Linked DNA regions of Homo sapiens: regions 2, 3 and 4 are each linked to region 1. Evidence: fine-mapped expression QTL. A gene starts in region 1. Each other region holds a variant in brackets. All regions are shown on one strand. Distances are from middle to middle. Region 1 holds the start of ZMYM1 (zinc finger MYM-type containing 1). Region 2 has its middle 33 kb from the start of SFPQ. Region 3 overlaps ZMYM6 (zinc finger MYM-type containing 6). Region 4 holds the start of LOC105378644 (a long non-coding RNA gene).

Evidence for each region. PIP is the estimated chance that this variant, and not a neighbour inherited with it, causes the effect.
Region 2: its variant is the best candidate, but not a certain one, in a credible set for the expression of ZMYM1 in esophagus muscle (GTEx, PIP 0.76).
Region 3: its variant is the best candidate, but not a certain one, in a credible set for the expression of ZMYM1 in whole blood (INTERVAL, PIP 0.76).
Region 4: its variant is the best candidate, but not a certain one, in a credible set for the expression of ZMYM1 in subcutaneous fat (GTEx, PIP 0.55).

The regions. Positions count from the first base shown.
Region 1 is chr1:35,077,976-35,080,591 of GRCh38, forward strand. It overlaps ZMYM1 (zinc finger MYM-type containing 1), which reads left to right and starts at 1,410. Exons shown (of 10, transcript NM_024772.5): 1 at 1,410-1,467. RefSeq lists an enhancer at 1,317-1,835.
Region 2 is chr1:35,158,715-35,161,330 of GRCh38, forward strand. No RefSeq gene overlaps it. Among named protein-coding and RNA genes, the nearest start is that of SFPQ, 33 kb to the right of the region's middle. The variant C/T (reference allele first, on the strand shown) is at 1,149.
Region 3 is chr1:35,012,333-35,014,948 of GRCh38, forward strand. ZMYM6 (zinc finger MYM-type containing 6) reads right to left here. Exons shown (of 16, transcript NM_007167.4): 6 at 2,365-2,556; 7 at 99-249. Among named protein-coding and RNA genes, the nearest start is that of ZMYM6, 18 kb to the right of the region's middle. The variant T/G (reference allele first, on the strand shown) is at 1,358.
Region 4 is chr1:35,144,924-35,147,539 of GRCh38, forward strand. LOC105378644 (a long non-coding RNA gene) reads right to left here and starts at 1,902. Exons shown (of 3, transcript XR_947180.3): 1 at 1,376-1,902; 2 at 1-173. The variant A/G (reference allele first, on the strand shown) is at 1,146.

The DNA.
Region 1 (2,616 bases):
CATTTCTGGGTTCCAATCTAATCCCAGTCACTGAGTTGCTGTGTAACTTGGGGCAAATTACCTTTATCCTCTTGCCTTCAGCTTTTCCTTTGGTAGGAAGGGAGCATTAGAGGAGAGATCATTTCAGTAAGGTCCTTTCTAATCCTAACAGTCTAAACAGATTATTATGAATATTAGAAGGTAATAATAAATGTTGGAGAAATTAACTTCAGTTACTCGTATAATATTTCAAATTACCAAAGGGTTTATATTAGATTTGAGGCTAATTCCAAAGGATATTTAAGGACCATAGCAGCAAGGATTAGGAGGCCCTTTTGGTCTGGACCTCACCTTCACAAGGGCCTCAAATTTAGATTTTTGAGAATATCTCCTTTAAAAGTAATTGTCAAATATGATTATAATAAGTTCATCATTCAACCTTATATATATATTTTAGAATCCTCTTATGCCTTTAGGAATAGCACAGTTAGTTCGTCCTATACTTTTTTAGGTGTTGAAAGTATTGTCAAAAAACATTTAAAATATGCCATTATTTTTGACATGCAGTTTGGGGTTATTTTAATTTTTTTTTTTTTTTTTTTTTTTTTTTTTGAGACGCAGTCTCTCTCTGTCGCTCAGGCTGAAGTGCAGTGGTACAATCTCAGCTCACTGCAACCTCTGCCTCCTGGCTTCAAGCGATTCTCCTGCCTCAGACTCCCAAGTAGCTGGGATTACAGGCGCCCGCCTCCATGCCCGGCTAATTTCTGTATTTTTAATAGAGACGGGGTTTCACCATGTTGGTCAGGATGGTCTTGAATTCCTGAACTCAAGCAGTCCACCCGCCTCGGCCTCCCAAAGTGCTGGAATTATAGGTGTGACCCACCACACCCAGCCTGGGGTCATTTTAATTTTAACGTACTAATGAAAGAAGTCTGAACTCCCTCCCTACCTCTGAGGATAATTTCCTTTTACTAGGAATTTACTCTGCAACTGGCACTTTGCTAACATTGCCTGTCATATTTTTTTTTTTTGAGTCCAGCTTCTGCAGAAGCCTGCCTAATGTTTACAAACCTACGATGCAGCCACTACAATTATCCCCATTTCAAGGTCGAAGAAATGGAGATTTATAGAAGTTGTCAAATCGCTTACTAGCACACAGCTAATAAGTAGTAAAGCCATCTCTCAAATCCAGGAAATCTAACTGCCCTGCCTGAGCTCTGAGTCAAGGGTCCTACTTTGGCTGCCAGCCAGCGACGACTTCAAGGGTAAGATCCTATGCGGGCCGTAAGGACTCTTCCCCTCCCCCTCTCCCACTTCTTCTATCCCAAAGTCGCTCTTCCCAATTCAGGGAGCTGGGACCACCCTGAGCCAGCGGCCCTGCGCATGCTCAACCGCAGAGCACGACGGGAGAGGGGCGGGGTCGGCGGGGCCGTTTCGCTTCGAAGATTGTTTCAGAAGCGTTGGGCGGGGCGTCCCTGAGAGAAATTAGTAAGCCTCCTCATGCGGCTCTGGTTTCGGTCTTTACTCCTGCGCCTTACTCGAAAGGGGCAGGGTTTCTGCTGTCGGTCGGAGGGAGGATGACGCGCCGGGTCGGGGTTTTAGAGACGGAGCTTTGAGTGCGGATTCCGCCAGATGGGGGTCGGGAACTCCGGGCCAGGCCCTGACGTGGATTGTGTTTGCCGCCTCCTTTAACCTTGCCCTCATAGACTGGGGGGGTTAGTGCTCCCCGCTTCCAGCGATTCTCGCCGCCTCCTGCTCCTGTGTAGTAACTGGGCCTTCAGACTTTAGTCTCGCTCCGCAGCCTCCGTTTCAGAAGCCCCATCACACCTGTATCTCTCCTTCATTGAGCAGTGATTTTTCAAAAGTTTGACTCCTGGCCGGGCGTGGTGCCTCAAGCCTGTAATCCCGACACTTTGGGAGGCCCAGGCGGGCGGATCTCTTGAGGTCAGAAGTTCGAGACCAGCCTGGCCAACATGGCAAAACCCCGTCTCTACTAAAAGTACAAAAATTAGCTGGGCTTGGTGGCAGGCGCCTGTAATCTCAGCTACTCAGGAGGCTGAGGCAGGAGAATCGCTTGAACCGGGAGGCAGAGGTTGCATTTAGTCGAGATCGTGCCACTGCACTCCAGAGCGAGACCCCGTCTCAAAAAAAAAAATGAAATGTTTGCTGAACCCCAAAAGCACAGTTTGAACGCTGCTGATTTACAAGATTAATTTTAAGGTATTTGGTATCAGGGACCTTCCTGACATGACCCATGTCTACTTTTCAAACTTTCCAGTTCCTTCTACTAGCACTCTTGCACTTGTACTTTATCTGCAACAACAGTCCCACTCCTTCTAGTTCCCATATATTTGTGCTTCTTTTTTTTTTTTTTTTTTTGGAGACTGGGTCTCGCTCTTTGGCCCAGGCTGAGTGCAGTGACACGATCACGGCTCACAAGCAGCCTCAGCCTTCCGAGCTTAAGCGATCCTCCCACCTCAGGTTCCAGAGTAGCTGGAACAACAGGTGCTCCCCACTACGCCCAGCTAATTTTTGTATTTTTTGTAGAGACAGGTTATCTTCATGTTGCCTAGGCTGGTCTCGAACTCCTGAATCGAAGCAATCCACCTGCTTGGGCCTCTCAAAGTGCTGGGATTA
Region 2 (2,616 bases), 81 kb after region 1:
TAGAATACATTACATTGCGTAGATACAAAAACTAGGTATTTCTTTAGGAGACTGAGGCGGGTGGGTCACTTGAGGCCAAGAGTGCGAGACTAGCCTGGGCAACGTGGTGAAATGCTGTCCCTACTAAAGAAACAAAAATTAGCCGGGTGTGGTGGTGGGCTCCTGTAATCCCAGCTACTCGGGAGGCTGAGACAGGAGAATCGTTTGAACCCGGGAGGCAGAGATTGCAGCGAGCTGAGATTGCACCACTGCACTCCAGCCTGGGTGACAGAGGGAGACTCCATCTCAAAAAAAAAAAAAAAAAAACAAGGAAAAGAAAAAGAAAAGAAATAAAGAAACAAACTACTGATAGGCATGGTGGTTCACACCTATAATCCTAGAACTTTGGGAGGCTGAGGCAGGAAGATTGCTTGAGCTCAGGAGTTCCAGACCAGCCTGGGCAACATAGGAAGACCTCATCTCTGCTAAAAAAAAAAAAAAAAATTTTTTTTTTTTTTGAGACACACTCGTTGCCCAGGCTGGAGTGCAGTGATGTGATTTCAGCTCACTGCAACCTCTGCCTCCTGGGTTCAAGCAATTCGCCTGCTTCAGCCTCCCAAGTAGCTGGGACTACAGGCACGCACCACCATTCCTGGCTAATTTTTTTTTTTTTTTTGTATTTTTAGTAGAGACAGAGTTTCACTATGTTGGCCAGGATGGTCTCGAACTCCTGGCCTTGTGATTGGCCCTGCCTTGGCCTCCCACAGGCTGGGATTACAGGGGTGAACCACCACACCTGGCCTGCAAAATTTTTTTTTAAATTTGCCAGATATGGTAGTGAGCACCTGCGGTCCCAGCTACTTGGGAGGCTGAGGTGGGAGGATCACCTGAGCCTGGGAGGTCGAGGCTGCAGTGAGCTGTGATCATGCCACTGCACTCCAGCCTGGGTAATAGAGTGAGACTGTCTCAGAAAAGAACCCAACAAACTATTGATACACCTAACAATGTGTATGACTCTCAAAATAATGCTGAGTGAAAGAAGCCAAATAAAAAAAAGAGGCCGGGTGCAGCGGCTCATGCTTGTAATCCCAGCACTTTGGGAGGCCAAGGTGGGTGGATCATGAGGTCAGGAGTTCAAGATCAGCCTGGCCAAGATGGTGAAATCCCAT[C/T]TCTATTAAAAATACAAAAATTAGCTGGGCGTGGTGGCTGGTGTCTGTAATCCCAGCTACTCTGGAGGCTGAGGCAGAGAATTGCTTGAACCCGGGAGGCAGAGGTTGCAGTGAGCTGAGATCGCGCCATTGCATTCCAGCCTGGGCAACAGAGGGAGACTCCATCACACACACACACACACATACACACACACAAAACACATGTCAAAGATTCTATTCATATAAAATTCTGGAAAATGGAAACTAACCTATAGTGGTAAGTAAGCAGATCAGTGGTTGCCTGTAGATTGGTAGAGGCAAAGGAGGGATGTATAGGTACAGGAGTCAAGGATTACTAAGGGACACAAGGAAACTTTTGGGGGTGGCAGCCATTTTATCTTGATTGTAATGTGAAAGTTGTTAGAATTGAGATTTAACACTAGGAGTCACTAGTGTTTAAAAAAAAAAATAGAGCCAGGGAAGGCTTGTATGTCTCATAACAGAAGCTATCACAAAAGACCCTTGAAAAAACACAACCTTGCAAAAAAGCCATCACAAACTTACACAAAAAATTCATCTGCAAAGACATCTACCAAGCAACTGCCTGTCCAACCTCAGCCAGGCAACACCCTTGTTAAGGATTTTTATAGCCAAGGATATCATTTCAAAACAATGATGTAATCCTCTTCATTTTTTCCTTTGAAAACCTTTCTCCTCTGTCTTTTTCCTTTTTCTTTTTTTTTTTTTTTTTTTTGAGACAGAGTCTTGCTCTGTCACCCAGGCTGGAGTGCAGTGGTGTGATCTCAGCTCACTGCAACCTCTGCCTCCTGGGTTTGATTCTCCCGCCTCAGTCTCCCCGGTAGCTGGGATTACAGACATGCACCACCATCCCCGGCTAATTTTTGTATTTTTAGTAGAGACAGGTTTTCGCCATGTTGACCAGGCTCGTCTCGAACTCCTGGCCTCATGTAATCCACCCACTTCAGTCTCCCAAAGTGCTGGGATTGCAGGCATGAACCACCGCATCCAGCCAAAACCTTTGTCTTTCTTTACCTATTCAATACATATACATAGTTTACTGTGGCACACATATTCCCATTGCAATGCGTAACTCCTGAATAAATCTCTTTTTCTTTTAGAGAGCCTCTTTCTCTTTATTATTTAGATTGACAGTGGTAATGATCTTATTGGTGTATACATATGTCAAACTTTATCAAGTTTGTACTTCAAATATGTGCAGTTTATTGTATATCAATTACTTCATTTAAGCTGTTTTTTAAAATGTTCATTACGTTTTCCTGTGTAAAATGGAAATTCGTGTGACTATTTATAACTTTTTCCAACTTGTTCTGTCTCTGTTAAAACAAATCTGTTGTATTCAGCTTCCAGCTCAGACAGAAAACTGGTACCAGATTTCCCTTAGTGCTGTAAACAACTAGAAAACTGCATGAAGTATACAAAACAACTGCTGTTCATACATGGTATATGT
Region 3 (2,616 bases), 66 kb before region 1:
AAATAGATAAATTTAGCTTGTAACAAAATCAGAGAAAAGCAGTTACGTTTTTCTTCAATAGTTATTAAATCTATAAATTTATCAAATTTAAACATTACCTGAAGAAGTAACAGTCTTAACTCTGTAAGCAGATAAGCAATTAATAGAGCAGAAAAGCTCTGTTTTTCCTGAATCATTTGTAGTCTCAATCATTTCAGCTGAGGGCCTCAATGACTTCCCCAGGGCATATGGAGGAATTTGGGCAGAATTCTATTAAAATAAAATAACATTAGATACCTAGTACAAACATACATATTTACATATTGTTCAAAAAAGTAAAAAGAAAAGCTACCTACAACCACGGTCCTTGGTTGAAATATTTGAGCATGATGATGAAACCACACTATTGGGAGGTGGGAAAATAAGTTCTTCCAGACAACAATAAAATAGAAACTGAAGAAAATTAGTAACTATTCAGATAGAGATCTTAGCAAACAAAACACATGAATTCAAACACAAGTAATGAATTAAATAGTCATTACATACTTTTTAATCACCAATAACCAGAGAAGACCAGCTAACCCATGAACCAAAGGGTCATTCTTGGTATAGTCTTGTACATCAATCTAGAAGAGTCTACCACCTTTAAGGTTACTTAATTTGTGAGATTCTTTAGCAGGAGATAGAAATGATATTTAATGTATATTAATAGAGATCCTACACAACTACCTATTTTTCAAGCTGAGTTTCATAATAAAATCTGCTTATAAGTTTATTCATGTTTTAAGAAATAATAAAAATAGCTACCATTTACATAACCAATATTATAACTTACTGAATGCTTACCATGAGTCAGGCCCCAGGCTAAGAAATTTATATATAGTGTATCACAGAAACCTTTCAACAACAGAGTGAGGCGCTCTCAAAAATTACATTAACAAAAAGTTTAAATTAACAGATGAGCAGAAGAAGTAGGAAATTAAACTCATTTCATCAGGCTCCAAAGTTCAGGCTCCTAACCACTACACTATGCTGTCAGTGATACATTATAAGGTCTCTCAATATGAAAAGAAATTGTAGGAAAATATAAATTGTGAGGTTTCACTACATAATCTTCCTAGTAAAAAGACAGAGTACAATACTAGTAACAAAATTAGAAATGGAACTGATTTTGGGATCATATATAAAATAACATGGATTCTTTTCCTGTGAAAGTAGAACCAGACTGCCAAAAATGGCAAATCTTAAAAAAAGAGATTCTTTTCAGTGATGAATGTCCATATGTCCATTACCAACTGCTCAAAGGAAGCAACAAATCAAACTTGCTAACTGAAAAAAAGTTTAATTATCATTTACAAGATACATCTTTGTTTTTTTT[T/G]TTTGTTTGTTTGTTTGTTTTTGAGACAGTCTTGCTCTGTCACCCAGGCTGGACTGCAGTGGCACAATCTCAGCTCACTGCAACCTCCACCTCCCGGGTTCAAGCAATTCTCCTGCCTCAGCCTCCTGAGTAGCTGGGATTACAGGCGCCCGCCACCACGCCCAGCTAATTTTTGTATTTTCAGTACAGACAGGGTTTCACCATGTTGGTCAGGCTGGTCTCGAACCCCTGACCTCGTGATCCACCCGCCTTGACCTCCCAAAGTGCTGGGATTACAGGCGTGAGCCACCGCGCCGGCCTTACAAGATACTTCTTTAAGAAAAACTTTTTAAAACCACAAATTAGTAATAATTAAATTGACACAAGGTGATAATATTTAGTAACCGGCTTAATCCATTATTCATTACAATAAATAAAATTACTTGAAGTATTCTCATGAGACAGTGTTGACCAAATAATTACAATTCATTCCCAAACACATTTTGAAATGAAAAAGACAAGCTTTGTTTAGATTCACTGATTTTATCATCTTAACTCTTGCTTATGGTTTATTTATAATATGGTTTTCTTGCTATCAATACATCACAAAATATTTCATGCTCACAGAAAATCATGAAATTACATTTATGAGGCCGAGGTGTGGTTGCTCATGCCTGTAATCCCGGCACTTTGGGAGGCTGAGGCGAGTGGATGGCTTGAGCTCAGGAGTTCAACACCGGCCTGAGCAACATGGCAAAACCCTATCTCGATTTCAAAAAAAGAAAAGAAATCACATTTGTAAATTCTTAGCTATGAAGGGAGCCTTAAAAAAGGGACCTATTTTACCTATATCAACTTACCACCACAATCATCCCTCACACCATCAGAATCTATCCCATTTTCTGGAAGGGAAATCACATATCAGGATGGACTAATGGGAGGAGCTCACTCTCATTTTGTAGTTCATCCCTGTGCAGCCAAATCAGAAGGAGTGGGCCTAAGTACATGCAACAAATAGATATTCATACCTGCTTGTATGCCGTGACACTTGTTGAACTAAAAACCTTCTGGGATTGGCAAGGACCAGAGCTACTATAGCAATAGCTCCCACAGTTCTCACAACAGTTCATGGTGAGGTTGTTTGTAGAGTGAAATTTTGAAAAACAGGCATCACTACAAAGACCATGTACCACATTTTGATATTTAACTTCAAATCGAGTCTAGGAAATAAACACACACATACACACACAAAATAAGCAGAGCCAGTTAAAAAAAAATCT
Region 4 (2,616 bases), 67 kb after region 1:
CAGGGTTACCACCGCATATTCTGCACATCTCTCTCCTTGTGGGTTGATGAAGCTGTTCCCGTCCACGTATAGCTCCCAGTTTACTGATGCCCAAGGCTGGTCCTGGAGGTCAGGTCTGCTAGAGTAAACTTGAGTCCAACACCTCTACACAGTTATGCTCGACAGGGCTCTAGCTGCCAGGAGCAAGGTGGAGGGTTCAGGGTATTTCCAGTTTAGTAGATCAATGGTTGAAAAGGGCTGATAGATGAAAGTCTGTTGCCCCCCCAGATGTGGGCCTGGTCATTATAATAGACAGGTCCTCGCGTCTCCCTGAGAGGCATTTGCATAGCTCGAGCAAGACCAGATCTGAGAGGGCCCACTTGACTATCTTGACTTCCTTCCTCGGCCTCTCGAGGCTCCGATCCTCCCCTTTGAGGTGAGACCTGGGGCATGTTAGCTCCTGAATCTCATTTCTGAGGGGGCTGTTGGCCTCGGTAAAGGGGGATAGGCTGGGACATATGGAGAAAGAATTTCTATTATCTCTGGCAGCTCCTGCAAAACTGGCTTCTGTTGCTGTTTCTGGGACTCCCTTTTTAACTCCATGTCTGCTGGCGAAGCTGCTCTTACTTTTACTTTTGGCTTTTTTTGCAATAAGCTGTTAAACAGGGCTAAATTTATGCCCATTTTGTCTATATTATATTTAACCATGAGTCAATATAAAGTAATTTGATCTAGGTACACTGGCTGTCCTCCAACCCCTGTCACCACCTTAAATACATGGCCAATTGTTCCCTGTCTATAGTTCCTTCGGTGGGCCATCCAACACCAAAAGAGGGCAATTCTAATTTACACAGAGTTCTTAGCCTCTAGGGGTTAACTTAACTCTATAATCTCCTGCAAAACCCTTCTTAAGGTTCTGTAACCTGCATTTTAATGGAATAAGTTTTGATGATTTGATGACTTTCCTTTTATTTTTCTTTTTGAAAATTTTTTTTAACACAGTTCTTAGTGGAGTAGGCTTACTTTGTGTCTGACCTATTTTTCTCTTGAGACAAAACAACATTCACACTACAAGAAGGAAAGGATAAAAGGTCACTCACTCATCTAATTCACACTAAATCAAAATGAAAACTAAAACCAAAGTGTTGTTAAAGGCACACCTGTTC[A/G]TCAAGCAATTTAAGCCAAGTCAAAATCAGAACCAAAACCAAAGTGCCAATAAAGGCATGTCTGTTTATCAAGCAATTCAAGTCAAGTCAAAATCAAAACTAAAACCAAAGTATCAAGCAATTCAAGTCAAGTCAAAAACAAAAACCAATGTGCCGGTACAGGCACGCCATGGGTGATCAGGCCACACTTCCACTCAAGAGGAGTGGCAAGTTCCAAAGACCAGTCTTACCAAGTTTCAGATGTCCAGACTTAAAGTGCCAGTTCCTTCCCGGTGTTCAGCCACTGCGTTGATCCTCCGCGGGGGCCTGCTGTGCGCTGCTCTGGTGAGGTGTTCAACCGGGGCAAATGCCTACCCGGGAGCGCTCTTAGGATCCGTGTTGCTCAAGCTGGCCAGAGTCCCCTGCAGGGATGCTCTACAGGGCAGACATAAGCTAACTAAGGGGCTGCCTGGACCATCCCTTAATCACCTCGCTTCCCGGTCAGGGAACCAAGAAATGTAACAGGACGAGCCACAGACAAAACTCCTCAGACACTGGATTAAAGAAGGAAGAGGTTTTTATTTGGCCGGGAGCATCAGCAGACTCGCGTCTTAAGAGCTGAGCTCCCCGAAAAAGAAATTCTTGGCCTTTTTAAAGGCTTACAACTTTAAGGGGTCCACGTGAAAGGGTCGTGATACATCAAGCAAGCGTGGAGGCTACATGCATCAGCTAACAGAACAAAAAGTTTTACAATGCTTTTTTTCATACAGTGTCTGGAATTTACAGATCACACAAGTAGTTTAGGTCAGGGGTTGATGTTATTATTACTTTTTTTAACTCCTAGGGTCGGGTGGTGGTTCCAAGGTTGTCTGGCTATTTATCTTACTTTTGTTTTTTTCCAACTTTTTGCTTTTTCTCTCTTCCTGTCTTGTGAACTAGGCAAGGTGGGGAGAGGAGGGCAGCAGGAGTAGTAGTGGTCTCCTTCCTTACAATTTTTGCTAAAGAGCAGGTTGGTGCTTTAAGATAAACCTGTTATGCTTTTACTTTAATGTCCAGTTCACAGAAAAACTGGATGATACTTCTTTAACTTTAGCTAATATGTTTACACACAGAATTTTCTTTACAATTAACATTTTAAAACATGTTTAAACCTTCAAAACAGTAATTTTCTTTTTTTAATGTAGGTAAAAATGTACATTCTTATGCTTCCTTATAATCCTTTTACCAAAGGTATATTTTACTTTTCTTATACACCTTGCACATAAACTGTTTTTTTTTTTAATAGTTTTACATTCAGGAGGCCTAGTTACTTTTAAATTATACAACATTTTTTGCATAAATTCTTTTTTATAACATTTTTCTCTTTCATGACTTTCACAGACAATTCTTCGACATGCCTCAACTTTCTGACTTATTACAAATATTTCTTTCTTTAAACAACCAGTTAACTTATTTCAGGACAAGAATCTACCATATAATACTCTTTTTATAT